3 separate regions of the Homo sapiens genome follow, and regions 1 and 3 are each linked to region 2. The links come from fine-mapping of genetic effects on gene expression. A gene starts in region 2. Each other region holds a variant in brackets. All regions are shown on one strand. Distances are from middle to middle. Region 1 overlaps DISC1 (DISC1 scaffold protein). Region 2 holds the start of NTPCR (nucleoside-triphosphatase, cancer-related). Region 3 overlaps PCNX2 (pecanex 2).

The links.
Region 1: its variant is fine-mapped to the expression of NTPCR in substantia nigra (GTEx, PIP above 0.99).
Region 3: its variant is fine-mapped to the expression of NTPCR in whole blood (TOPMed, PIP above 0.99).

What each region holds. Positions count from the first base shown.
Region 1 is chr1:231,967,055-231,977,025 of GRCh38, forward strand. All of the region lies in intron 10 of DISC1 (DISC1 scaffold protein), which reads left to right. The region is part of intron 13 of TSNAX-DISC1 (TSNAX-DISC1 readthrough (NMD candidate)); the gene reads left to right. Among named protein-coding and RNA genes, the nearest start is that of DISC1-IT1, 46 kb to the left of the region's middle. The variant C/A (reference allele first, on the strand shown) is at 5,023.
Region 2 is chr1:232,944,682-232,954,652 of GRCh38, forward strand. It overlaps NTPCR (nucleoside-triphosphatase, cancer-related), which reads left to right and starts at 5,930. Exons shown (of 5, transcript NM_032324.3): 1 at 5,930-6,063. The coding sequence starts at 6,030. LOC107985361 (a long non-coding RNA gene) reads right to left here and starts at 6,868. Exons shown (of 2, transcript XR_001738525.2): 1 at 6,647-6,868; 2 at 3,539-6,475. RefSeq lists enhancers at 5,652-5,751, 5,664-6,205, 6,206-6,745, 7,874-8,373, 8,309-8,518.
Region 3 is chr1:232,987,470-232,997,440 of GRCh38, forward strand. All of the region lies in intron 32 of PCNX2 (pecanex 2), which reads right to left. Among named protein-coding and RNA genes, the nearest start is that of NTPCR, 42 kb to the left of the region's middle. The variant C/T (reference allele first, on the strand shown) is at 4,269.

The DNA.
Region 1 (9,971 bases), 980 kb before region 2:
GATCCAGTTCTCTTTTTAAAAACTAATGTTTACTTTTTAATTATTAAAATTTCAATAGGACAGCCTGATGTGGAATGATAGCCAGGTGAACTCACCCTGCTAATGAATGTCCAGAGGTGGCCAGCAGGGTGAGCAGCACCTGAAAGACCAAGGTCTGTTCCCTCACCCAAGGCTCCCAGAGCCTGTGTGTCATGGCCAAAAGAGACTGTAAACTGCCAACTGCTCTCAATCTAATGAAGACGGGAACCGGGGTCAAAAATTGGAGCAATTGTTTCCAAAACAGGTGCACACAAAACAGTTTACTGGAGTGTGGGAAGAACATATTATAATTTCTATTTTATGCTTCAATTTCATCCATTTATATTTTATCTTCAAAAATGTTTTATATGTATGTAGTAATACATGTATACCACTTGTGAAACAAATATTGGAGTTTCATAATTTTCTTACTGATGAGTGCACACAGTTTAAATTAGAGAGTGTTGAAAAAATATTCATTTACTTATGTTCTAATATTAAACCATAGCAGTCTCCATAAAATATTCACTGTCGGATTTATACACTTTTGAACTTTGAAGCTATTTGACTATTTTGACCAATTTTACAAGAGAAACAATGATTTACATTACCTTATCAGTTTGAAATGCAAACTGTAAGAAAATATAAAGCGCTTAATTCTACAAAGTTAAGTGAAATCATTAATTTGATAATCATTGATTTTTGCATTTAACTTTTACCTTATCTCATCAGAAAAATCTTAAGTATGCTTAAAATAATAATGCATAAGCTAAACATACGCAGAGAAAAACTGCATAAAATATAACAAAATGGCGTGAATTAAAAAGAGTAAAAAAGGAAGGAAAACAAAGGTAGGAAAAACATTAGTAACACTTTGATGGGGATTAGACTCAACACCATAGTAGTTCACTATTCTAGACACTCAATTAAGTATTAACTGATATGTATATAAAACTAAGTAACACTTTACAATGTAAAATGTAAATGATATAATTTATAATTAACTTTTCTGCATTGGCCTATTGGTCATTATAATACTTTCCATTCTATAAGAACCCATGTAATGAATTTTAACTCAGAAATAACTTTCCCAGGAAATGTTCACTTGTGATGGAATTTAGTTTCCAGAGTACTCAGATCAATTCAAAAAATCTGCATGCAGTTCTTCGGAGAGAGAAAGCAGAGTTCCATCTTCTAGAATTCCAGCTCCCTGTGTTAGGAAAGCCTTTCCTTCAAAACAAGAAAAGAAGCCGCCAACCCCGAATTGGAACTGGCCTCTTCACATCTGGACCACAACATGGGAGGCGGAGGCAACTCTTCCCTTCTCGGTACCCTGAGCAGACGTACCAGTCACAGTAATTAATATAAAAGGTGTCCTTCCTCTTGAGGCATCACTTTTAAAGCAAAAACAAGGGAGGCTGAGGCAGGAGAATGGCGTGAACCCGGGAGGCGGAGCTTGCAGTGAGCCGAGATCCCGCCACTGCACTCCAGCCTGGGCGACAGAGCGAGACTCCGTCTCAAAAAAAAAAAAAAAAAAGCAAAAACAAAAACAAAAAGCCCTCTCACACACACACAAAAACCTGTTTCTGTTTCCCTATGTAATGAAGACCCCTGAGGTTGGCAGCAGTGTTGTCCACCGCCAACTCCCTGTGGTCGATCTGGAAGCTTCATCTAGGGAGGGGCTCATGAAGGGGCCTCATGAGTAACCCCTCTCCTGAGGATTGTTATTTTCAAGTACCAGCTCTGGAATCAGATAGTCTAGATTCAAGGGTGGCCATTTCTGAGCTGTGGGCCTTTACCAGGTTAATGCAGCTCTTAAAGACTTGATTTTCTGTCATAACAATGGGATAACAGTAGAATAAGATAAAAACTATTTCTTATATATAATAAGGGATTAATCAATGATCACTAGTATGTACTAGTAGGAATTATGGCACCATGGAAATTATGAAACCAAGAAACTCTACATTAAAAAACAAGTTTTATTTTATAAAAACAGAAGAGAATACCTTATCTTCCTGGTGAAATTGTGGGGAGCAGAGAGATGTTTGCTTGTAGCTAATACCCTCCATTAAGGATCTGCCAAACCTCCTGATTATCCAAACACTCAGCGGTTTTTTTTTTTTTTTTTTTTTTTTTGCTGTCTGCCCTTTGGCCAGCTGTTAGCACCTGCTGCAGAGGGTGGGAAGAAAAAGAAATGAGGTAATTGAGTTCTTGCTAATGGCTGTGACAGAAGATTTAGAGCCTTCAGTGGTTCCTACAGTCAAGTGGCAGGGATCCTAGAGCACACTGCTGCTCTCAGAATGGATCTGGCTTGTTCTGGAGTTTTTGAGATTGACAGAGCTCAAAGTTCCCAGGCTCCAGAGCTCAGGTGCTGGGGAGGATTTCCCATCACTTCTGAGATTTGGGGAGCTCCAAGGCCCCTCCTCTTGACCCTCAGTGGAGCTCAAAAGAAAATCGTCTTGACCTCAGAGACAGCATTTTGGGGTGAAGATACTCCAATATACTTGTTTCTTTCTTTCTTTCTTTTTTTTTTTTTTATTATACTTTAAGTTCTAGGGTACGTGTGCACAACTTGCAGGTTTGTTACATATGTATACCAGTGCCATGTTGGTGTGCTGCACCCATTAACTCGTCATTTACATTAGGTATATCTCCTAATGCTATCCCTCCCCTCTCCCCCCACCCCATGACAGGCCCCGGTGTGTGATGTTCCCCTTCCTGTGTCCAAGTGTTCTCATTGTTCAATTCCCACCCATGAGTGAGAACATACCATGTTTGGTTTTTCGTCTTTGCGATAGTTTGCTGAGAATGATGGTTTCCAGCTTCATCCATGTGCCTACAAAGGACATGAGCTCATCCTTTTTTATGGCTGCATAGTATTCCATAGTGTATATGTGCCACATTTTCTTAATCCAGTCTACCATTGATGGACGTTTGGGTTGGTCCCAAGTCTTTGCTATTGTGAATAGTGCTGCAATAAACATACGTGTGCATGTGTCTTTATAGCAGCAAGATTTATAATCCTTTGGGTATATACCCAGTAATGAGATGGCTGGGTCAAATGGTATTTCTAGTTCTAGATCCCTGAGGAATTGCCACACTGTCTTCCACAATGGTTGAACTAGTTTACAGTCCCACCAACAGTGTAAAAGTGTTCCTATTTCTCCATACCTTCTCCAGCACCTGTTGTTTCCTGACTTTTTAATGATCGCCATTCTAACTGGTATGAGATGGTATCTCATTGTGGTTTTGATTTGCATTTCTCTGATGGCCACTGATCATGATGACTTGTTTCTTTCTTTCTGGTGTTTTCCTTGGAGAAAGCAAAAATATTGCCCTAGAGAATGGCATGGACAGAAAAGAAGAAGAAGGAAGATTAGAAGTGAAGCCCTGTGGGCTTGTCTGGTGAGGGCCCTCTTCCCAGGACTTAGCTGCATGGGAAGAATCTGGGTAGCACTACAAGGATGGAATCCATGGGGTCTTAGTTGCCTGTCATCATTTTCTTTGCCATTGATAATTCAACACTTAATCAAATGCGGTGGTGTTTTTGAAAGATAGCCTGAAGAAAAAGATGACCATGACTTTCACTAATAGAATAGAAAATAGACAGGAGATTGATTATCACTTAAAAGAAAAGGGTTCATTAAACAGGTTCCACTGTGGTTTGCGCAATTCAACCCAAAGTTTCTCTGCTGTAAAGCAATGATAAGATCACTCTGCCCACTGAGATCAATTGAGAAATCAACCAATATTTAAGAAGGTCTGAGACTTGGCAAGGTGCCCAGTGACTGAGAAAAGAGGGTTCCTCTTTCTTTAAGTTGGCAGAAAGACATTCAGCTGTGATTTTTACGTGGCCTGAGCTAAGGAAGAGACTGAGCTAAGGAAGGCAGTGTCTTGTGTAGGTTATATCCATGGTGCTCTATGAGCCTGTGCACCCATTATCCCCAGATATGTCAATGTGCTTCACAGTGTGCACATTTCATGGCACCTGTTACAGTTTTAAAAAGACAGTTTAATTAATTAATGGTGAATGTTCAATCTTAGATGGTTTTTTTAAACTCAAGATAAACCATTATAGCTTGAGTGTTTTTGATGCATTTGGCTAGGAGTTAGGAAATCTTAAAGAAAAATTAATTGCTGTATCAATGGAAACCCCAGTAGGTAGATAACAAATTTGTCATTAATTAAATGAGAAGACTTTTTAATGATTCGAGGAAGCGTCGTCAAGATTGTATGATAGTTTAATTTGCTAACATGGTATGAACCTGTTAGCTTCAGACACATGATTAATAAAAGTAAAACCCCTCATGGAATTTCTCAGATGCTCAGTTCTAGCATGCAGTCATTTTTGAGACTTGCTCAATGTCCTTATCTCACTTTACTGACAGTTCTGCAGCAGCCGTGGCAAATGTAGGTTAGACAAAATATTACATGCAACATTTTCTATGATTCATTTTGCTCCTTTTTCCCTCTTCCCCTTCCTCTCCAGCCACCCTGAGTCATACAACAGCTGTGAGAACATTAGTTACAAGGGAGCGAGCTGCAGACACTTTAGGTGCTGGGCTGTATCCCATTATATCTGGATGCTGACACCAGGATGGGTTCTAAATCCCTTATCACAACTGCCTCAGGCGGAAAACATTTTTTTTTCCTTCTGTTGCTGCTGATGTAAAGATGAAGTTTCTCGAGCTGAGAGAATTTTATGTGATCGTATTGTATGCTAAGCCTCAGAAGATAATTCTGTAGCTCCCATTCATCACAAAAGCAGGGACTTTCAGTTGTGCTTCTTTAAGAAAAAAATTCCCCAGTAGAAATCATACAATGATTTAGCGGACTAAGAAAAAGAAGAGAATCACCAACAGGATGACTTGTGACAATTACACGAAGTCATTTGACTGAGTTATTTCCTTTATTATTCTGTAAATGGGAAAATAACGAACATGCTGGTTATCAGCTGTGGTTTTGCAATGGAGGCGTTCCACCAGTGCAGAGCGGTAATTA[C/A]GCTGCCCGGTCTCACTTTGCAAATGAACTGAAGCCTGTCTCTTTTAATTGACTGTCTGTCTCTAGAATTTTCTTGATTTATTGCTGCTCAGTAGAATTTACTTTTGTTTTGTTGATGGCATTTGTCAACTCTAGTAGTTACCAAATGGAAATTGTTCTAGAGGGTTGCTTTGGCATAAGTGTGCTCATTTGTGTGGCTTATTGGAGCATGAAGGAGAGATGTGCTTCTGTAAGATGTCTTGCCCTTCTGCCTGCCAGAGGGGCAGGGGCTCACCTGGAGTATGTTTCATCTGGTTCCTTAGATCTGTAAGTGACTATGAAGCCTTTCAACTGGAAGAGTTTAGTCAAGTGTAACTGTATGATTTCGGAATGAATATGGCCCCATCTTTGTTTCCCAGGTGGTGAGTGTTTAGGGCATTATATAGCAGCTGTGATGATGAGAGCTTGGCTTCTCATCTCCAGCTATGTTAGTCTACCTAGGAAGAAGGATTCTTCTCTAAGAAGAATTCAGTGGGACAATATCCAGAGATACAAATCTCAAGAGACAGACTCCTGAAAACAAATTGACTGCTCATTTGGCTTCAGATTCCATGCATAAATCTCCAGCTCTGACTGTTAATCACAGCCACTAGACCTCACGACATAGGATTTTAGAGGCAGATAAAGAAAATGGCAGTTGATGTCTTAGCCTGTTGCTATGCCAGTCTATGATGAACTAGCACTACCTGAACTCAAGAGTAAGAAACAAATGAAACTGGTTATAAGGTTTAGGAAAAAGCAAATAAGCTGTTACTGAGAGTGGTGACCATATGGTACCTATAGGGTACACGGGCCCTCTGTGAAACCCGTAATATTGGGCTGCGTCTCCTCTTTCCTCTACAACCTGACCCCATCGCCTCATTTGATGGATTCCAGTCAATTGTAATTTTGAGAATTGTAAGACTAGTATACTAGTATGCCAATGTCTTGTTCTTTTTTTTTTTTTTTTGAGATGGAGTCTCACTCTGTTATCCAGGCTGGAGTGCAGTGGTGTAATCTCAGCTCACTGCAACCTCTGCCTCCTGGGTTCAAGCAATTCTCCTGCCTCAGACTCCTGAGTAGCTGGGACTACAGGCGTGCGCCACCACGCCTGGCTAATCTTTGTATTTTTAAGTAGAGATGGGGTTTCACCATATTGGCCAGGCTGGTCTCGAACTCCTGACCTCGTGATCAGCCTGCCTTGGCCTCCCAAAGTGCTGGGATTATAGGCGTGAGCCACCGCACCCGGCCGCCAATGTCTTGTTCTTTAAAGGAAGAATAAATACACATTTAGAAGATGGCTACAACCTCATGCAAAGGTCTCGAAGCAGCAAGTTGAGGGACAGGGCTTACTGGTCCAAGAGTAACTTCAGGCAGGGAAGCCTTTTCCCATGTCCTTCAAATTGACCACATCACTTGGATCATGAATGCTGTTGATCTGGTTTCAAAACATAAGAACAAGCATCTTCGACAATGCGGTTGATAAACATCATCAACAACAACCCACCGAAGCATCAGTTGTTTTGTCTTGTCCGTGGCAGTCCTGCATTCAGATCTGTATTCACTGTGTGATCACATGCATTTTTCCTAGGCCTATAATAGGTTTCCCTCCGCATGCCCAAACAGTGGAGCTAGCATTTTTTTAAATTTACAAACAAAGATTGTAAAATTCTAATTGGGAGTGGGACATCCTTTTTAAATAAATAGTCGTATTAATAGTAATAGCAAGGAGACCATCTAGATAGTACTCTATTTTCAGGGCTCAAAAGTGAAAAGCTAGAAAAGCCAGCTGTTTAAGCATTGGCAGGCAAGTTATGATACGGAGTACCCTCCTCACACCCACTCCAAACTAATGTGTCATCTTTCTCTGAAGAGCTGTGGCTGTTTTTGTGGTTCTGAGTTGACGGGGATTTTTTTTTTTCTTAAAGAGGTACATGTTTATGTTTGCAACATGGTATTTCTTGCAGCCATACTCCTCAAGTCACCATCTCCAAAGCTCACACACTAAACAGGGTCAAGTGAGTCAAAGCAGCAGGAGAGAACCATGATTGGGGTGTCTGGGACTAGAATGGGGAGGGCAGCATGTGCGGGTGCGGGGCTGGCCTTCCCGTGGTCTCAAGAGTGGGAGGTGTGAGTCTCTCCCTGGATGTTTAGCTCAGCATCACCTCAGAGTTTGAGCTTGACTGAAAACAACAACAATAACAAATATGCCGAAATATGATATCATTTAAAATAAACCCAACAACCTTTAAAAATTAACATTATTCCTTAATCGGACCATTTTACTGGTCTTTTTTTCTTAAGTCAGGAAAATAAATGCAAGCCTATGTGCAGGTCCTCAAAAAATGTGAAAATAAGCCTAGTAAAAATCTGGCAAGAGATGTGGTTTCATCAGCCACCTCATAAGCAGATCTTTTCACATAGATTTTAAGAGAGAAAGTTGGTTTATCTGCACTTTAGTGGATGCTTCCGTTTGCTTAACTTCCGTAATAAGAATCCCTAGAAAAACCTGGAGATAATTAGCAGAAGGGCGGAAGCATGAATTTAAATTCTTATACCCACACTTAATTTTGTCAACTTTATGATTTGCTAACCAGTGCTTTTTCTGCCAGTTTCTTTAAGTCTAGCTTAGTATTATAATAAAAGGAATCAATAATACCAATCTATATAGTAATTTTCTTCAAGAAATTCAAAATCCTATGGAGGAATTTAAGAAATATTTTAGGCCGGGTGTGGTGGCTCACGCCTGTAATCCCAGCACTTTGGGAGGCTGAGGCTGGCAGATCACGAGGTCAAGAGATCAAGACCATCCTGGCTAACATGGTGAAACCCCGTCTCCACTAAAAATACAAAAAATTAGCTGGGCGTGGTGGCACATGCCTGTAGTCCCAGCTACTCGGGAGGCTGAGACAGGAGGATTGCTTGAACCTGGGAGGCAAGGTTGCAGTGAGCTGAGATCGCACCACTGCACTCCAGGCCTAGCAACAGAGAGAGACTCAATTTCAAAAGACAACAAAACAACAATAACAACAACAACAACAACAAAAAACAAAGAAATGTTTTAATATGAGAAAACATTTTGCAAAAGAAGACATACACATGGACAACAGGTATATGAAAAAGGGCTCAACTTACTAATCATCAGAGAAATGCACATTAAAAGCACAATGAGATATCATTGTACCCCAGTCAGAATGGCTATTATCTAAAAGACAAAAAATAACAGATTTTGATGAAGATGTATTGTAGAGAAAAGAAGACCCTTATACACTGCCGGTGGAAATTTAAATTAGTACAACCTCTGTGGAAAACAGTATGGGGATTTCTCAAAGAACTAAAAATAGAACCTCCATTTGATCCAGCAATCCCACTACTGGAAATCTACCCAAAGGAAAAGAAATCAATGTATCAAAAGCCTGCACTTGTATGTTTATCACAGCACTATTTCCAACAGCAAAGATATGGAATCAGTGGGTGATTGGATAAAGAGAATTTGGCATATATACACAATGAAATACATAAAATGCATAAAATACAAATGCATAAAAAGAATGAAAGAATGAGATCTTGTCATTTGCAGCAACATGGATAGAATTGGAAGTCATTATCCGAAGTGAAACAAGCCAGACACAGAACATCAAATATCGTGTGTTCTCACTCCTAAGTGGGTGTTAAAAAATGTGTTCACATGGACGTAGAGAGAGGAATGATAGACGATGGAGATTTGGAAAGGTGAGAGAGTGAGAGGGGGTGGATGATGAAAAATTACTTATGGGTACAATGTACATAATTTGGGTGATGGGTACCCTAGAGCCCTGACTTAACCACTAGGCAATCTATGCATGTAACAAAATTGCCCTTGTACCGCATACATTTATTCAAATAGAAAATGAAATATTTTAGCCTATGCTCATTAGTTTACTTATGAAGCATCTACATGGCTCACTGCACTTTCTTCCTAAGTTCTCTGACTTCTGAGGCAGGAGGTGAGGCCAGGCAGCGGGCAACTGTGCTTCCCTTTCTCACCAGGACAGGTGCCAGGAGCAAGGGACCTAACTATTTTGGTGCAAAGTGTTCATTAATGGGTCTGTGAATCCCATCTCCAGCTCCAGCATGACTCCAGGGCCTAACATTAACTTGAGAACAGTATACAGGAAAAGGGATGTTTTTGAAAATGCTGATTATTTCATAGCCTCTGGGTGTCAGCCGTGAATCTCACTTTAAGCCCCGCTAGGGATCCTGTTGCCACCACTGAGCAGAAAATGCAGTGCTTCTGTGAAGGAATGGGGCACAGAACAGTCACCGCTAATGTGTTCCTGAAAAAGCCGGGGTGACCTTTCTTGTGGCTGCTTCAGAGGATGATGTCACTTTGGGACAGAAAAAGGAAGATCTCTTTCCAGTTCACATAGGATAATAAGAGTTCTGATTCTTAGTTGCATGTTGAAGAACAAACAAGGAGCATAGACACTCATCCTGGGGAAAAAGACTATGGAATCTTTGGAAGCTGAGAGGCCAGCCACTTACTTTCCTGGGATAGAGCTTTTATAACCCCCGTATTGGGCTTAACTCCATACCTTTGACGCTAAAGTTGTTCACTCTCTGGGGAAACCATCAAAACAATCAAACAGAAACAAGAGCTTTTAAAAATGGAATATTTAATACTTATGGCACAAATACCTTTTAGAGGATTGCAATGATCATGGTAGAGAGACTGATTCAGACATTTTTCAAATGTTTGTTGGAAATGTCTGAAAATGACAGGCAGTGATAGTATCAATAACTAACCTTCATCAAGATATCTGTGCATCGGATAATCTGCTATATACTTTAAAGAGATTATGTGCTGTATGCCTCCCAACAACCCAATGAGGGGTGAGCGCTATTATTAACAAGAATATGTAAGGCAACTGGGACTCAGAGAGATTCAGCAC
Region 2 (9,971 bases):
AAAAACGTGTTGAATCTTCAGATTCAAGTCTCTGATTTCTTGTGCCGGCACCAGCCAGAGAAAATGCCCAGACTTTATGATAAGGTCAGGCCTATCTGGATGATCTCTCTATCTTAAAGTCAAGTTAAGGTCATATAACGTAACCTAATCACAAGAGTAGGAATCTTCTATTATATTCACAGTCTTGGGAATTATGCATGGCATGTACAGATTGAAAGGCAAGAAATTTGGAATGCCATTCTAGAAGTTTGCCCAAAACAGGTAAGACTGCTGCTTCTCCCATCAGCACCCCTGGGGATGCCTTAGAGCAATTCTTTCAGCTGGTCTTCTCTTCCCTAGTCTAGCTCTATAACTTCAGGTGACCTTTGTAAAGAGAGGTTGACAGGACAATGTCTGTGTGCTTGATGTGGCACCACAGAATTGTGACCAGAGACTTCCCAGTGGGGCTCCGCTGTTCCAATATTTAGTATGTTGCACCAACTAATACACAGTTTTTTTTGTTGTTGTTTTTGTTTTTTTTTTTAACGGAGTCTCATTCTAACACCAGGCTGGAGTACAGTGGTGTGATCTTGGGCTTGGCTGTTCCAATATTTAGTATGTTGCACTAACTAACACACAGTTGTTCTTTTATTATTATTATTATTTTAGACAGAGTCTCGCCCTAACACCAGGCTGCAGTACAGTGGCGCCATCTTGGCTCACTGCAACCTCTGCTGCCTCCTGGGTTCAAGCAATTCTCCTGCCTCAGCCTCCTGAGTAGCTGGGATTACAAGCACGCGACACAATGCCTGGCTACTTTTTGAATTTTTAGTAGAGACTGGGTTTCACCATGTTGGCCAGGATGGTCTCAATCTCTTGACCTCGTGATCCACCTGCCTCGGCCTCCCAAAGCACTGGGATTACAGGTGTGAGCCACTGCGCCTGGCTCCGTTGTTCTTATTCGAAGGGGAACACCTAGTAGGTGAGTGACCTGCCCAACTTGCTTGGTCAAGCAAAGTCTTATGCCTATCTCATGGGGACATCACCCAAGGATGATTATCGGATGGTTACCTCAATGTACCACCTGTCCTTTAAAGCTGGGAAAGCCTGTAGGACTTTCCTGCTGCTCTGCCCCTGCTCTTTGTCTTCCCTGACAGTCCCATGCTGTCTATGGGGATATAATTCACTTATTCACTCATGTGCTTAAGAAAATATCAGTTGAGCACCTATGATAAGCATGTGCCAGTAAATGCACAAACGTTATTTCTGTAGCAGCTGGATTATTACAGCAGCATTCAGATTGGTCTTCCTGCTTCTACCATTGCCTTTCTGTAGCCAATTTCCTACACACACGACTGATGATCCTTTTAAAAGAATTTACATAATGCCATTCTTCTGGTCAAAACCCTCCAATGGCTTTCCAGCTGTTACAGTAAAAGCTAGAGTCCTCACCATGGCCTATAAGGCCTGAACCACCTGCAGCCCCTCTGACCTCACCTCCTGTGCATCTCTCTCTCCTACTCTGCTCCGGCCACACTGGTTTGCTTGGTTCCTTCTCAGGCCATGTGTTCCCACGTCACGACCTCTGCACATGCCAATGCCTCTCTCTAGACCGCCATCCCCCAGACACCGGCAGGGCTTGCTTCCTTCAACTCTCTGCTCAGATGCTGTATTCTCAGTAATATCTTCCCTGACCACCTTCTATGGAGTAGCACATCCACTTCCCTTTTCATTTCCCATCCTTTTATTTTTTCCTCCATGGCCTTACTACTCTGTGGCATTTTATTTATGTACTTGTCTGTCTGTGTCTCCCACCAGAATATAAGCTATAGCAGCACAGAGACTGTCTTCTTTGCTGCTGTATCTCCAGGACGTACATTTCCTGGTACACAGTGATGGATGAATGTGTTGTAAGTACCGTGCTATATTCTGGGTATAAAGAGATGAATAGCACAAGATTTTTTAGATTCTTTTTTTTTTTTTTTGAGGTGGAGTCTCACTCTGTTGCCCAGGCTGTAGTGCAGTGGCTCACTGCAACCTCTGCCTCCTGGGTTCAAACGATTCTCCTGCCTCAGCCTCCCGAGTAGCTGGGATTACAGGTGCCGGGCCACCACACCCAGCTAATTTTTCTATTTTTAGCAGAGACGGTGTTTCACCATGTTGGCTAGGCCAGTCATGAACTCCTGACCTCAAGTGATCTGCCCACCTTGGCCTCCGAAAGTGTTGGGATTACAGGTGTAAGCCACCGCACCCAGCCTAGATTTTTACCTTTGGAGGAGTTCATAACTGGGTGGCAGGAGAAGAGGCAGATGCCAGCAATCAGGGGGTGCTGTAAGGGAAGGCCAAGGGAGCAGAGGCTGGGCCTGGAGAATCACAAAAGCCTTGGGGAGCAGTAACAGTTGAGCCCATCCTGGAGGATGAGCAAGGAGTGACTGGGGAGAATGCGGGGGAGGCCTCTCACACCCCCTCTCACTTCCCCTTGTCCCTCTGCTTCAGTCATGGTGGCTGGTGGCTGTCCTCGATCCCCACTGGCTAGGGGTAGATGTGTTGCCCGGGTCACATGCTTCCTCAGAGTCAATCACTGAGGCTGGGAAGATAGAATGATCTCGTTGACCAGGCTTGGGTCATGTATTCCCCTTGGATAATGAGAAAGGGAGGGAGGTTCACTCCTATCAATCACAGAGCCTGGGAGAAAGGGGGTTCCTAAAAGGAGAATTTAGCTGCTATTTCCATACAGTGAAATGAACAGTGGGCTGGCCAAACAACACAATGGTCTCTCTTCCCACTTGGTTATTTTCACATCCATACTTTTTCTTTGTTCTGTTTTCAGTTTTCCTGTACTTAGGAAACTGTACCCTAAATATGCCAGAACTCTTGTTCTGTGTCCAGCCAGGAAGATGCCACAGGATGCCAGTAGCAGCTGGGCGTGGGGGACATCCAGGCATGCGGTGTAGGAAGGGGTGGGGTGAGGGTGTAGAGTCATCTCTGCTTCTGTCCTACTGGGTTACTGGCAGGATAGAACATTGTTCTGCACAGAGATTAGAACTCAGGGTATGAATGGCTCAGAGTTTAGGTACAGACTGCATTAAACAGTCATTCTATAACCACCGCTGACAAGACAACCAGCTTACAATAAAGTATTATTAGCCTTTGACTTGTTTGTAAGAAGGAATTATCTTGTTTAACCACATGAAACCTTCTGCTTTACTTCCCAAATGTTCCTTTAACAGTTTGATGACCATTCATCCTGGTTTGCTCGGGATTGAGGGGCTTTCTAAGACACAGAATTTGCAGTTTAAAAATTAGGACAGTTCTGGGAAAAGGGTAGATATGAAAACAAAATAAACAGTGTTTTTTGGACTTTAGGGTATTTTATAATTGTAGAGACTGTAGAGTTGTACCTACAAACTGTTTTAATAAAGAACTGTACTGCATCCTGTCATAAGTGAGGCTGCACCCAGGTGTTGCAGAAGAAATCTTTGGAATCACCTGTTCCTTAGGTAATTAATTCTACCTTGTGTGTTAGCTCAGGCTACTATAATAGAGTACCACAGATGAGTGGCTTAAACAAAAAAACATTTATTTCTTACAACTCTGGAGGCTGAAGTTTAAGATCAGGGTGCCAACACGACTGGGTTCTTGGGGAAGGCCCTCATCTTGGTTGACAGAGAGCAGTCTTCTCCTCGTATCTTCACATGGCAGAGAGCAGAGAGATAGAAAGCAAGTTTTCTCCCGCCTTTTTCTAAGGGTACTAATCACATTCATGAGGACTCCACTCTAGTGACCTGATTACCTAATTGCTTCTTTAAGGCCCCACACTTTAATACCTTCACCTTGTGGGTTAGGATTTCAACAATATGAATTTTGGGGGGACACAAACATCCGTCCATTGGATGTTGATTAGATAGGAAGCAAAAGTTGGATTCAGTATGGTACAGTACTTTAAGATCCCATTTATTTTAAAATTTGTTTCAATTTATGCCATCTTCTTTTGTTGTTAATCTCTAAGAGATATAAGCTATTTAATTTTTTGTTATTGTTACCTAATAACACATACAGGAAACTGTAGAAATTAAGCATCAAATCAATGAATTTTCTAACAAGAAGATATCCGTGGAACTACCATCCAAATAATTCATTTTCCATGGATAAAGTACATTCAACTATGGAGTCTTTTTTTCTGTTTTGTGAGACGTTGATTCACCATATCTGAATTCCATGTATCTTTGAGCTACTTAAACTGATGCCAGAATTCCAGGCACAGCAACAAAACAAAAGAACCCAACTTCCGGTGAGCCTTGCAAATCCAAACTGCTTTTCAGTGATGGAAAATGCTATCTGATTAACATTTAAAACGAGTACTTTTGATACAAGAGATACATATACTTTTTTCCTTTTTTTTGGAAGCTCCTCCTATGAATTTACTTTACTATATCAACTTTTCACTGTATTCAACATATATGGACTGCAAAATAAATCAAGGTGGAAGGCCCTACATTAACAGTTGGGATAATAAATAGTATACTGTTATAATAATAGAGCATTACAAATGTTGCAGAAATGATGGTGATGACAGCTATATTTTACAAATCCAACTTTGTTTTTTTAGATAATCATTGGACTGGCATATGTCTCAGGCTAAAGGGAAACCAAGAGGTCCATGTGTGGGCAGAAACCAATTAAGTTGAGCACTCACTGAACTGCTTTCTCAGCCAGGATGGGGAACGACTGACTACAAATTAAGCTGTACACATGTTAGACTGAAAGAGTTTACAGGTAAATGTGGCCCAAGGCCACTGCCACGTCATTCGTTGGCCGGAACACTTGCAGTGGTAAAGTGAGACGGAGAAGCTATTTAATTCTTTGCAAGAGGAGATCTTTATACACTTTGGTGTGAAAGTAAAGAGGGAAAACTGGGCGTCCTATGCATGGCTGAGGACGGGAAGCCTGCCTACACCAGTGGTTCTCAACCCTAGCGCACTTCAGGAACTTCCTGGAGTTTAGAAAGAAGAAAAAAGAATACAGGTGCTCAAGACTCGCTCAAGACCAATTACTCATGTTAAACAAGATTTATGGGAGGCCATTGTTTTGGACTAACCTCCTGCACTAGGTCCTAGCAGACTAGACCAAACCAGAATGGAGTCACTTGTGCCAAGTGCCATGTAACCAAACTGAACTTTGAAACAGGCCCGTTTTCCCAAAAAACAGGAGATTGTAGTTAACCTGAGTCAGTACAATAACGAAGTCCAATCTGTTTTAACCCTATAAGGAAAGTAACTTTGAAATACCCACTCTTTGTTTTGTTCTTCAGCCTTTTTTTGCCCATAAAGCCAACCTCCTCTGCACAACTCATTGGAACACTCTATTTGCTTTATGAAATGATCTATTTCTCGATTCTAGATCCTAAATATAAGCCAATTAGATCTTTAAACTAAACTTGTAATTTTGTCTTCTGACACTCCCTATTACTGCAGGTGAAACCCAGGCATCAGAGCAAGTTTAAAACTCCCCAGCTGATTCTATTCTGCAGGAATGTTTGAGAACAAAGTTGGAGTCATTAACATGGCATCCCCCTTTGAGGAATGCTTCCAGGTCACAAACCTTCTACAAAAGGGCTGTCCCGGCAGCCTTGGGCAATTTCAGCTCCTAGGTCCGGAGTCAAGGGGCAGAACTTGGGTGATGGCGCTGACTTGAAGCAGCAATAGTTTAATAACTGACGTTCTCACGCACTTATCTCTGCAAATACCCCACAAAAGCCCTGAACCCAGAATGAAACTTAAGAGACCGTACAACCCGCTCCGCCTATAGGAACTGCCGCGGCACAGGCGCCAATGCCGAGGGCTGAATGCGCAGGCGCGGACCGGGGACTCGGGAGAAGGCGCATGCGTGGTCTTGAGGGCGGTGCTTCCGGTCAAAGCACCGCTTGGGGGCGGGGCCTGCGACACGCGGTGGGCGGGTCCTGAGTCGCGACCCTGGTCCGGACCTGACCTGAATTGCGACCCCAACCTGGACTGCTCCCCTGACCGCAACCCCTACCCCCGCCCACCAGTATGGCCCGGCACGTGTTCCTAACGGGGCCCCCAGGTAACCCTGAGGGGATCCCCACCTCCAAGAGGTCGAGGGGGTGGGGGCGCGCGGGCTGCGGGCGACCTTGTGCTGTCGGGGAGGGTCTCCGGCTCCAGGGCTCCGGCCTCTGAAGTTCCCAATTTAAATGGCGGGCTTGGTAGTCTGAAGAGTTTGTACTCCTTCCCGGAAAACGTGATTTAAAAGACACAGGGCCTAAAGGATTAGAACACACTTGTGAGGGGGTCCTAGACTGGCTTCTTGATGAAGGGCAGAAACCGCAGGGGCCAGCGGCAGCGGTAACTCCTACTGTAGTGTTGACGTTGTGGTCTGCACAAATGGTATTTCAAGAGATCTGCGGCAACCGCGATGTGAAGTGGAGATGTCTAATTTCTGTTGATAGTCACAGGTATTTCCTTACTGTGGGTCTTTGCTACATTGATCGTGCAAAAAAAAAATGGTAAATTTTAGTTGGAGGACAGCGAAACTGAAGTTGTAACCTTTCTTTCCCATCTAAGTTCATCCCCCCACCCCCATCCCCATCTCCATCCCCACGAATTCCCTCCACAGCTGAGGCCAGAGGTGGAGAAGCTTTGGTACCTACAGGAGCCCTTCTCAGACACTCTTGCTTGTTCCTGTCGCTGTCCCCTCCTGATGTCTGTCAGATCCCTCAACCCTGTGGCCTGTGGAGTTCTCATCTGAGAAGCAGGATAGCGTTGAGGTCAGATGAGAGGTGTAGGAGGAGGTGCTTTTAAACCAAGGCGCTACCCATGTATCAAGCATTACTAAAAAGGACAGGTAGGCTGCATCAGATAGGCTAAAAAAAGATAGATGGGCTAAGAGTGGAGAAAGTGATTTCTTCAGCTCCTTTGCAAGGCAAATCTAATTTTGAAGTTTAGTGTGGGTTCAGATATCAAAGGCTGTAACCCTGGATCTAGAATTCTCTTTCACTTTATTTTAATGATTATGTTTAGTTGTAAGTAGCAAAGGCTACAGCTAATATTGCAGACTTTGGGATTTTGTCAGGCATTGGATGGGGGAGTTGGGGAGCAGGGGGTGAGGAGGAGGAGGGTGGTTTGAGAAATGCCTGCTATCTAAAGTCACTCCTAAGTATTGCAAAGAACTGTTTTCTGAAAGTTGGTTTGTCAATCCTTTATTTGAAACTTGGAATGCAGTTTGATACTCAGCAGGCTGACCCCAAGACAACTGTGTGTTTTATTAATGGAGGTGTCCTGTTACCGTGATTGTATTGATGGTGGTTCTTGTTTCTGCTTTATCAAAGTCTTACCTACACGTAGTTGAAAGACTCAAATAATTCTACAGTGTAGCTCTCTTAAACCTGTCCTCAAACCCACGCACCTTTGTCTTTTCTCCTTCTCTTCTTAATGTAGTTACAGCGTAATTTTCATTAGTCAATGTTTACAGTATTATGGCCATGTAAAGACAATCACAACAGAGCCACATAGTAATCTATGATTTCTTTTCCATTTATTTATTTATTTTAGAGACAGGATCTTGCTTTGTCACCCAGGCTGGAGTGCAGTGAAACAGTTATAGCTCACTGCATTCTCAAACTCCTGGGCTTAAGTGATCCTCCCACTTCAACCTCCTGAATAGCTGGATCTACAAGCGCATGCCACCACACCCGGGTATTTTTTTTTTTTTGTAGAGACCTGTCTCTTGTTATGTTGCCCAGGCTGATCTCCAACTCCTAGCCTCAAGTGATCCTCCCATCTGGGCCTCCCAAAATACTGGGATTATAAGTGTGAGCCACCTTACCCATCTTTTTTTTCCCTCTTCTTATTGAGACAGGGCCTCTCTCTGTTGCCCAGGTTGGAGTGCAGTGGCACAATCTTGGCTCACTGCAACCTCCACCTTCCAGGCTCAAACCATCTTCCCACCTCAGCCTCCCTAGTAGCTAGTACTACAGGCATGCACCACCATGCCCTCTAATTTTTTTTTTTTCCTTTTACACATAACTTTTTTCCCCATTAGGAGTTATTGTCAGGTGTTTTTATTTGCCTAGTTTCTTTCTGTTTTCTCAATATGTTCAGACCATCAGGTAAAGTCTCCTCTCAAAGAGGTCACTTTTTGTTGCATATCCTCTTAGTGCCCCTGGCACTTAGCATTTTTTCCGATTTCCAACTGTCTGTACCCATGACTCATCTTGGAGGGCTTTCTCTGGTCCCTGGAGCCCACTTGGCCTGCAAACAGAGCAGGCCAGAAGAGCCAGGGAATTCCTGTGCCCTGGGATTAGCCTTCAACCTGTGATTGGTGAAAGTTAGTTGATAAATTCCCTACTTTCTCACTCCTCAGACAGGATAACTGAGCCACTTGCCCTGACTTGTCCCTTAGGATTCCCCAGGGGGTTGAAGCTCCAGCTGCCCCCAGTGGAACTTGCTTGACAGTGCACCTCATGCTGGTGTCCTTCCCTTCCCTTTCTGAATTTCTTCCCTGCCAGTCCATCATGTTGTCACTGCCCAGGTTAAACTACCTGCACTTGAATCTTTATCTGAGGATCTGCTTAGGGGAGAACCAGAACCAAAATAATTCCAGAGCTTTCTGATCTGTTTGTGCCTGGTATACAGCTATCATCTCGAGGTCTCCTGAAGCAGAGGTCATTTCTTATCCAGACAGCATTGGGGTAGCAGCTTAACTAATGAAGAAAAAATTAACTGAAAGAAGATTCCTAGAGCTGAAGAAGCCAAAAGGGACTTTGCCCAAATGCTTCCTATTTATTGCTCTACTATGTTCTACACAACATACAGTCCCCACAGTATACCCTTTGTGAACAGGAATAGTTACCGTTGCTCCATTTTATCTTTTTCAAAATATAAACGGCAATTTTTGTTAGGATAAGAGTAAGACCCATTCAGTATAAGAATTAAAAAAAACAAGAAAAGTTTAAGGAAGAAAGTGACAATCACAGGGAATTTGAACATCAGAAATCAACATTGTAAATCTTTGTTCTGTATTCTTCTTGACATTTTTTTTTTCTGTAGACACGTACTTGACCATTCTTTAAAAAAAACATAATGGAATGGTTTCTGCTATTAACCTGCTTTTTCCATATATTATTTTCATACATTGTGGTCTATTTTCCATGCTAATAAATACATATAAGCAGTATATTTTTTAATGGTTGCATGGTATTTCTGTGTATTTATGTGCTATTATATACATGGTGCCATGAGTTAACATTCCCTTACAATCAACATTTAGGTTGTTTTCAGTGTTTTGCTATTATAAAGAATGTTGCAGTGAATGTCCTCTTTCACACATTTGTATTGTTGATGTTTCCTGAGGATGAATTCCTAGTCATGAACTACAGGGTGCTGTGGCAGGCGCATTGAAATTGCCCTTCAGAAAAGAAGTAGCAGCTTACACATTCGGCAATGCCATTACTTGCATGAAACAGATTCTTTAGTGACTTTCCTAAAGCAGTTGTTACTGATGGCCAGGGCTGGATTAGAATGTCATCATTTTATGTTCTACACAGTTCTACCAGCTGCATGCTCACTGTGGCTTACTGTAGCCAGAATCCTGTTGTGTTGCTGTTCATGTTCCAGAAAGCCAGGTGCCATTATTTTAATGTGAAGTGTGAAGATAGATACATTAAATAAGAATAATGGATCATATTTTATGTCAAGGAGGCTTAAAAGAGTGGGTAGTCTTAGAAATAGCATGATTTGCAACTCTGTAGTATCTCAAAATAGCTCACTTGCAGACATGCTAGGAGTTTTCTCTCTCTTTCCATTGTTGGGTAGTCATGATGCCACTTACTTAAATCCATATTGGGAACAAGGCTCATATTTTAAAAAGTCATGGTGACAGGTAAAGTCCCCTGTTGAAAGGTATGGACCTTATGAGGGGTATAGCCTTGGGTAAAATACCTAACCACCATGTACCTCAGTTTCTCCATCTGTAAA
Region 3 (9,971 bases), 43 kb after region 2:
GCTAGTGACATCATGGTTCTATGAACGGCATCATGGGCATATCCCTGCAGCTGCTACAATTAGGCATTAAATAAAGACAAACAAGGGGGCGGAGGCATGAGTATCAGAAAGGACGTCCTATGCATTGCCTTGTGTTCCACCTCACCCCAAATGCCCATTATTCATTATGCATCTGGTGATTGTGAAGCGGGCGTGGCTGCCTCCAGGAGAACCCAAGAACTGACACATCATGTGAGAGGCAATTCCTTAGGGATACACATTACGAAGGGGATTCCAGGGTTCCTTCCAGCCCCACCCCACCCCACCGTGGCCTAGGCTGAAGGGGCCTTTCTGCCTCCTGTTGACCACAGTGCCAGTTTGGATGCTGTGATGGTCGAGTGCCCATTTGCAGAGGGCACTGGTGCTCCCATCTCACTTTCTCCTGCCCGTGTGTTGACAGTAAGGAGCGCTCGCCCCACAGTGCTGGGGGCTTCCGCAGGACGGGGCTGCCCTCCCTGGGATGAGTGTGCTCAGCCCCTCGCATGGGGCCCACCCGCCTCTGCTGCAGGAGGGGTGCATTCGGGCCGGCCTGAAAGGTCCCGGCTGAGTAGTTGAATATATTCCTCTTACAGAGAAAAAGGAGAGGAGGAAAGGGACCCTGATGAATCAGAATGAAAAATAAGGAGGGCGATTTGTTAGTTTATTCAGTGTCTGGCAAGGCCGGACGTGTGTTTGTGATTTCTATCGTAAAGCTGATCACTGTCCAAAAATACTCCACATTTATCCACAAGTCAGTGATTGTGATGCTCAATAGAAGACCACCCATACTTGGTGGGGAACTTCCTAGAGAATTCCAGGAACAAGGGGACAAATAACCCACTGTGTGTCAAAGGGAAGTGGCCTGCTGTAGTCTGTGCAAGACAAGGACTCCCCCGCCACCCGATTTCATTGCTTCAGGTTTTCTCATTGCTCTTTTTTTTTTTTAATTAATTTTGCAAATGGAACAGCACTAAGGAAGCAAACCATGCTAAATGCATTTGTGCTACTCAAGATCATTATTTTACAATTTAACTTATTTTGCAAATAACTCTATTACCAAGTTATGAATGTTTCTAGGGAAAACCTTTTTAGAACCTGAATGGAAATACCTTACATATAAATCACCCTCCTTGGTTTATTATCGTGGCACTTAATTCCTTTGTCTTTGATGTTATCTGAACAATCGTGGTGTAGCTCCTTAGTAATATGAGAACACAGCCTCCCTCTCCAATCTGGGATTCGGATTAGTTATGAATTCCTAACTGCTCACCAGTAAGTAGGTCACCAGCCTCCACTGCTAGGCCAACTCCCCTTCCAGCTGTGACATATGCTTTTTACCCCAGCAAGACGTTTGCAGGTTGTCAGGACCTAGATGAGGCTGGCGTAGTGAGCGCCTGGCAGCTGGGTGCAAAGTGCTGTGTGCACCAGCAGCAGCAGATGCACAGCGTGGCTGGCCTGGGGAGAGGAGTTCTGTCTGTGAGGTCTCAGGCAGGAGGGACCCCAGTCCGCTCAGCCTCTAGCAAGGGCTCAGGATTGGGATACCTGACCAGAATTGAGGCAAGGACCAACGAAGGGTGGGGGCAGTTGGGTCCCCAGTTATGTGAGTTGAGTCTTGGTGACTTGGTGAGTAAAACAAGACCCTTGTTAGAATTTGTTTCAAATTCGCCCTTCAAAACTGCTCACTCGGCCGGGCACGGTGGCTCACGCCTGTAATCCCAGCACTTTGGGAGGCCGAGGCAGGCAGATCACGAGGTCAGGAGATCGAGACCATCCTGGCTAACACGGTGAAACCCCATCTCTACTAAAAATACAAAGAATTAGCCAGGCGTGGTGGCGGGCACCTGTAGTCCCAGCTACTCAGGAGGCTGAGGCAGGAGAATGGCGTGAACCCAGGAGGCGGAGCTTGCAGTGAGCCGAGATAGCGCCACTGCCGTCCGGCCTGGGTGAAAGAGTGAGACTCCGTCTCAAAAAAAAAAAAACTGCTCACTCTTTGCTACTTGGCTAAGGGTCTCTGTCATGCCCTTCCCAGAGAGGCAGGTCCTCCACTCTGAGAGGCCCCCAACCACCTCTCCAATGGCACTCAGCACACTGTGTTGTCACTGTCTGATGCACGGTCCTCTCCACTATGTGCCCTTTCTGCAGCAAAGGACCCCTGTATCACTTCTATGAGCTCAGCACCCAGTACACTAACATGTAAGTAAAGGATACACAGGACAAACCTGCAAAACTGACCAGATGCCAAAACGCTGATTAGAAATCCAGTGAGCTTCAGAAAGTTCGGGGTGGGTACAGTGTTTCTTAAACTTGGCCATTAGAAGCATTTCAAAAAATTAATCAATATCTTGACTAGAGGCTGAGACCCATAGGCAAGCGCCTGTAGATGGGCCCAAGGGGCTGCCACTGCAGACTGGAGGGCAAGCTAAAGGTTAGGAAAATAGGAAGGTGATTCCTCCATACTTCCAGGGTCAAGTCCAAAGATCTGGGATCAGGGAATGTTCTCCCCATAGCTGGAGACTGGCCTCTAACGCCCCTGCACTGGCCAAGCAGGTCTCTGGCTTCCTTTCTGGGAGCTGTGTGTCTCAACTCGGACGGGCATGGTTGTTTTACTTAACTAGAAGGAGGGTGAGAAGGAGGCCAGAGACTGAAATCAAATCCAGTTATCCTCACATCCCTGAAGGGAATGATGGCCTGCTGGGAATGGCAGGTAGGTGGTTTCCGCAAAGTGTCCCGGGCAGGGCCAGGCAGAGCCGCCCCTCCCGTTGTGGTAGCCTCCTTCTTGGGCTTGCTCTCCTTGGAACCTGGGCTACCTGCACACTGGGTCTCAGGTGCAGTGTCTTGAGGGGAATGAAAGCTCTGTGCTCCCGGTCGCAGTCAGTGCTAGAGAGCCTTCTGGATAGTTGAATCACATCTTGGAGGGATTCTGGCCGGGGGATTGGGGCACCAAGGTCATGATGGTACATTTCAGGAGAGCCAACAAGATCGGCAGCTCTTGGCTCCACTGCTCTTGGCTGTGACAGAACCTGCCTACAGCTGCAACTCTGAGACCCAAGGGCTTTGCACCCTCGCCCTCTAGGGAAGCTGTAGTGTAAGTGGCTGAGGCCAGGAGGGGTAACCATCCACTCATTCGTCCAACCTTTGTCTGCTGAGCCCAGATCATGCTTACCACCCAGCCCAGCACCTCAGAGGTTTCCCTTGGTGGCCCCTGCAGCCGTCTCTGTCCCCACAGGGCCAGGAAGCTGTGGAGACAGGAGCACGTCAACCAGCTCCCACCCACTCCTGCTTGGCCGTGTGCTGGGTTCCCAGGACTCCAGAACTCCCTGCCCCAAACTGGGGCCTGCACAGGCCTCTTCCCCAGGGTCGTCTCCCAGGGCGGACCTTGGGCCTACTTGCAGGCACGTGCACCCCCAGACGGGCATGTGAATGGGGAGGCTCCAGTGCATGCAGGCAGCCCCTCACCTGGCAGGATGTGGGGAGAGTGGGGAAGAGGGTGGTGTGGTCTTCACATGTGCTCCTGTCACAGGCTCTGCAGAAGTTAGGGCTGCCCACCTGAGCGTCCACCGTGGGCTGCACTGTCCTAGGTGCCGGGCAGTGAGCAGCTCATGGGAAATTCTGACCACAGACAAGGCACATGCATCAGGCAGGGATTGGAGGGGAGGAGAAAGTGGGGCAGGGGGACAGCAGTGCTGTATGGAAGGCTGGCCAGGGTCTCTTGGATAAGCTGGGATTTGATGGGAGGCTGTGTGAGTAAGCGAAGGAGCTGCAAGCCTGGGAGAGGGACACTGGGGACAGAGGAGGCAGCAGCTGAGGGGGCCCTGGAAAGGAGAATGCTTGACACTGTTGAGGGACAGCAAGAGACCGTGTGCTGGGGATGTGGGCTCATAAGAGAGGGCTGAGAGAAGGGAGAGAAGGCGTGAGAGAGAGAGCAGACCAGATGGGGGCCTGCGGGGGAGGGGTGCTCATGGGATGCGCGTGGGTGTTCCGGGCTGAATCATGTTCCCTCCCCAGACTCCTCTGTTGAAGCCCTAACCCCCAGGACCTCAGGGTGGGGCCTTACTTTGACACAGGGTCGTTGCAAATGTCATTAGTTAAGATGAGGTCATACTGGAGTAGGATGGGCCCTGAGTCCATGATGACCAGTGTCCTTATAAAAAGGGGACGTGTGGACACAGAGAAGTACAGGGAGAACATGATGTGAAGACCAAGCCAGAGCTCAGTGGTGCTTCTCGAGGCCGGGGGATGCCTAAGATGGC[C/T]GGTGAACCACCACAAGCTAGGGAAGGGTCCTGGACCCCACTCCCCTCCAGCCCTCAGGAGGAACCAAGCCTGCCCACACCTGGATCTCAGACTTCCAGCCTCCAGAACTGGCAGACAGTAGGTTCATGCTGTTTAAGCCACCTGAGCCATGGTACTTTGTCATGGCAGCCCAAGCAGACTCACACATTCTGAGCTGAAGCCATCATTCAACAGAAGAACAACGTGAACTGATTTAAGTTTAAATAAAATCACTCTGACTTGCTTTGTGGAGATTTACGATTTTGTGTGTTGTCGGAGCTGCACGAAAGACCAGGGAGAAAAAGCAAGAGAGATGATAGCAAGAGAGAGGTTTTTCCTTCTTTTAAGTGGGAAAGGGGTAGCAGGCCTTGTTCAATCTCCCCTGTCTTCTTCCAGCTCTCTGACCCTCTGCTGGGGATAAAAGCCTTGGCATAGCTTCCTAGGCTGCAGTGCCTTCTTTCCTCAGCATGTCAGCTCCTTGAGCCAGAAAGGTACTTGAGACAGTCCCTTGCTCTGCTCCTGTCCCTCCCTGACCACAGTGAGAAAGTAAAGGAGCCCCTGCTGGCTGCTTCAGAAAGAACTGGGTGTCAGCTTTGCCTGCTCGTGGGGCCAGAAGGAAGATCACTTATAAGTGGAACCCTTGCCAGCCAGGGGACAGGACAAAGTCATGCTGGGCAGAGACATGCCAGCTGCACAGATGGAGGGCAGGAGGCAAGGGCGGCACACTCAGTGTTCAGTAATGCTTGTTTCCATCAACTCATTCCCAGGGCTGGGGACAAGGACATTCGAAGCAGCATCCCTGGGGCCAGGACAATGGGATGGTGCAAGGTGGCTGAGATCACAAGTTCTGGGGCCAGCTCACCTGGGAATGAATCTCAGACTGGCCACTGCCTGGCTGGGTGACACTGGGCAGTGACTTAAGTTTTCTAGGCCTCTGGTCTCCACCCAAATTTGATCTTGAATTGTAATCCCCATGTGTTGAGGGAGAGACCTGCTGGGAAGTGAATGGATCATGGGGGCATGGTTCCCCCAGGCTGTTCTTGTGATAGTGGGTGAGTTCTCACAAGAGCTGATAGTATTAAAGTGTGGCACCTCCTTGGTCTCACTCTCTCCTGCTGCCATGTAAGACACACCTTGCTTCCCCTTCGCCTTCTGCCATGATTGTAAGTTTCCTGAGGCCTCCCCAGCCATGTGGACCTGTGAGTCATTTAAACCTTTCTTTATAAATTACCCAGTCTCAGGTTGTATCTTTATAGCAGTGTGAAAATGGACTAATATGGAGAATTGGTACCAGCAGAGTGGGGTATTACTATAAAGATACCTGAAAATGTGGAAGCAACTTTGGAACTGGGTAATAGGCAGAGATTGGAACAGTTTGGAGGGCTCAGAAGAAGACAGGCAGATGAGTGAAAGTTTGGAACTTCCTAGAGACTTGCCGAATGGTTTTGACCAAAATGCTGATAGTAATATGGACAATAAAGTCCAGGCTGAGGAGGTCTCAGATGAAGATGAGAAACTTTTTGGGAACTAGAACAAAGATCACTCTTGCTGTGCTTTAACAAAGAGACTGGCGGCATTTTATCCCATCCTAGAGATCTGTGGAACTTCGAACTTGAGAGAGATGATTTAGGGTATCTGTTGGAAGAAATGTCTAAGCAGCAAAGCATTCACAAGGTGACCTGGCTTATTCTGAAAGTGTTCAGTCATATTTGTTCATGAAGAGATGGTTTGGAAGTACAACTTATGTTTAAAAAGGAAGCAGAGTATAAAGGTTTGGAAAATTTGCAGCCTGACGATGGAGTAGAAAAGAAAAGCCCATTTTCTGGGGAGGAATTCAAGCTCGCTGCAGAAATTTGCATAAGTAACAAGGAGCAGAATGTTAGTAGCCAAGACAATGGGGAAAATGTCTCCAGGGCATTTCAGAGATCTTCACGGAAGCCCCTCCCATCACAGGCCTGGAGGCCTAGGAGGGAAAAATGGTTTCATGGGCTGGGCCACGGACCCCACTATTCTGTGCAGCCTCTGGATTTGGTGCCCTGCATCCCAACCACTCCAACTCCAATGTGGCTAAAAGGGGCCAAAGTACAGCTTGGGCCATTGCTTCAGAGGGTGCAAACTCCAAGCCTTTGCTGCTTCCATGTGGTGTTGGGCCTAAGAGTGTGCAGAAGACAAGAGTGGAACTTTGGGAACCTCTGCTTAGATTTCAGAGGAGGTATGGAAATGCCTGATGTTCAGGCAAAAGTCTGCTGCAGGGGCGGAGTTCTCATGGAGAACCTCTGCTAGGGCAGTGCAGAAGGGAAATGTGGGGTTGGAGCCCCCAGAGTCCCACTGGGGTACTGCCTAGTGGAGCTATGAGAAGAGGGCCACCATCCTCCAGATCCCAGAAAGGTAGATACACTAACAGCTTGCACTGTGCACCTGGAAAAGCTGCAAACACTCAACACCAGCCCATGAAAACAGCTGCAGGGACTGTACCCATGCAGAGCTGCCCAAGGCATTGGAAGCCCACCTCTTGCACCAGTGTGACCTGGACATGAGACATGGCATTGAAGGAGATTTTGGAGCTTTAAGATTTAATGACTGACCAGCTGGGTGTTGGACTTGCATGGGGCCTGTGGCCCCTTTGTTTTGGCTAATTCCTTCCATTTGGAATGGGGACATTTACCCAATGCTTGTTCCCCCATTGTATCTTTGAAGTAACTAACTTGTTTTTGATTTTACAGGCTCATAGGTGGAAGGGTCTTGTCTTGTCTCAGATGAGACTTTGGATTTGGACTTTTGAGTTAATGTTGGAATGAGTTAAGACTTTGGGGGATGGTTGGGAAGCATGATTGGTTTTGAAATGTGAAAGGGCATGAGATTTAGGAGGGACTAGGGGCATAATAATATGGTTGAGCTCTGTATCCCCACCCAAAAAAAATCCCCATGTGTTGAGGGAGGGACCTGGTGGGAGGTGATTGGATCATGGGGGTGGTTTCCCCCAGGCTGTTTTTGTGATAGTGAGTGAGTTCTCATGAGAGCTGGTGGTTTTAAAGTGTGGCACTTCCTCACTCTTGCTCTCTCCTGCCACCATGTAAGATGTGTCTTTCTTCCCCTTCACGTTCCACCATAATTGTAAGTTTCTTGAGGTCCCCCCAGCCATGCAGAACTGTGAGTCAATTAAACCTCCTTCCTTTGTAAATTACACAGTCTCAGGTAGTACCTTTGTAGCAGTGTGAAAACAGACTAATACATTCAGTTTCTTTATCTGCAAGATGAGGAGGGTGAAACTGCCTGCATCTCTAAAAGCCATGGTGAGGATCCAGTGAATGTGCACATGAAAGTACTCAGGATGGTGTTGGTAGAGTAGAACCTGAGAACTGTTACTGTTATCAAATTTTATCACCTGCAGCAAGGATGCTGTGAATACACCGGGGGGCAGAGAAAGAGCAGGGTGGCAGCAAGGCAGGTGAGTTCAAAGCAGCTGATGCTTGGCCCAGGGCTTCATAAATCTCCCCAACCCTCCATCCCCCTAAGCAGGACAACAACTGGTCTCAGAGCCTGGGACAAACTCAGGCTGCAGGTGTGGCCAAGGCATGTGGTGTGTGGGGTATTTAGCCAGGCATGCTCCTTTGCTTGTAAAATGTAGAAAGCCAGCGGTGGCCTTGGCAGGAAGTTTTAAGAAGCATTCATGAGAAATTAACAGCTGGTTTAGGCTTTAGTAGATCCTGCTCCAGAGTAAGCGTGTCATTTAAATATGTGGAGGTAGATGCCCCAAAAATACAAAGCAGCTGCAAGAGTTGGAAGCAGTAACCTCTGAGAATTAGGAATGTTGCTGGGGGGTGAAGGGGGGAAACCCATGATTTTTGTTTTAATCCAGGCAGTCCTTTTTGAGTTTTAAACTATGCTGATTGTATAGTTTGATTATTAAATTTTAACTTAAAAATCCAATTTAAAAAAAAAGATCCTGCTCTGACATCTTCCACAAACGGGAAGCTGTGATTGCTCCTGTAAATGCAAGGAATGCTCACTGCCTATGGTGTTCGGACTCCAGGGAGTGGAAGGAACACCAGCTCTTCCAGGCAAGGCCAGTTCCAGGTGCTGTTTTATAGGAAGAAAGGGAAGAAGGTGTTTCCAATTTCTTCCCCCTCCTCTCCCCCCACCCAGGCTGGAGTGCTGTGGCGTGATCTCGGCTCACTGCTACCTCCGCCTCCTGGGTTCAAGGGATTCTCCTGCCTCAGCCTCCCAAGTAACTGGGATTACAAGCACCCACCACCACACCTGGCTAATTTTTTGTTGTATTTTTAGTAGAGATGGGGTTTCACCATGTTGGCCAGGCTGGTCTTGAACTCCTGACCTCAAGTGATCCTCCCACCTCAGCCTCCCAAAGTGCTGGGATTATAGGTGTGCACCACAGCACCCGGCCTCCAATTTCTTTTCTGCCAAGCTTCAAGAAACCAGGTCTGAAGCACTTCTGGAACCCCCACCTCTGACCCCTGTCTCTGACCCTGCCCACCCCGCAGCCACACCCCCCTGACTCTGGACTTTCTCCAGTCCACACAAGTCACCTGGAAGTACTGGCAAATGACAGATGCTTAGGCATTTCACCATTTGGAAGCTACTTTGCATTTCCCCACCTGGAAAGTCACTCCCATGATCCTGAAACACATTTTTCATGTGATAAGAAATGTTAACTAAACAATGAGATACTGGAGGCCTGGGAGCTGCATGGGAGGCCTCCAGCAGGTGTCCTGCAGGGCCTCAGAGTAAACAGCATGGGGTGGGTGGGGCAGGGGGAGATCTTTTTTCCTTTCTTTTGAGCAGCGGATACCACCTATTTTGTCTATTTACCTATCTATCTACCTACCTAGCTTTCTTTCTGTCCTCTATCAATCAGTCCCTATCTACCTATCTAGCATCTGTGGAAGGAAAATAAAATCTCCCCAAACTCATATGCCAAAGGAAAAAGTCAAGCCTGGGAACTGAGACATGCAAAACTGTCTCCCTCCCAATTTGCTTGCAGAGAAATTCCTTGTGGGCCCCAAGATCTTTACTCTAAAACAGTTCTGTTAAATTTCACCCTGACAATGTAAATGAACAGCTTACCTTTACAAATGCGGGACAAAGATAGGACTAGGAGTCCTCCATCTGCTCACCTGAGACAAAGGCACACATGACTCCTTCTTCAACTCTATGTTTACTTTATGTAAAAATGCAGATCTGCGGAGCTGGACATGAATGTACAATTGACTGTTTCTCTACCTACGCTTTTTACATGTAAAATGTGGATTCAGTGAAGGTTGATGAAAGCCTCAAAGGCTGGTCACAGTGGTTGCAAAATACCCCTTTTCCTTATCCCCTGCCCCGCCTTTTTCCCCTATTGCCCATTCTTTCCCCTTTAAATAATGAAGTCCCCAAACCCTCTTTGGAAAAAGTAGCCACAGTTGGGTCTGTCGCTTGTGTCCTTTTTTCCTGGGCACCTCTTTAACCTTGGCAAAATAAACCTCTAAATTAATTGACAGCTGTCTCAGATACTTTTTGATTTATACATATATCCTCTCTTTCTCTCTCTCATATCTTGCTCATGTTTGCATACATCCTACTGTCTCTGTTCAATCCTCTGCCTTGCTCTGGGCACTCCCAGGAGGCAGGGACTGTAACTCCTGGCTCATTTGGTGCAGAGCTAGCAGGAGAAGCATGCACAG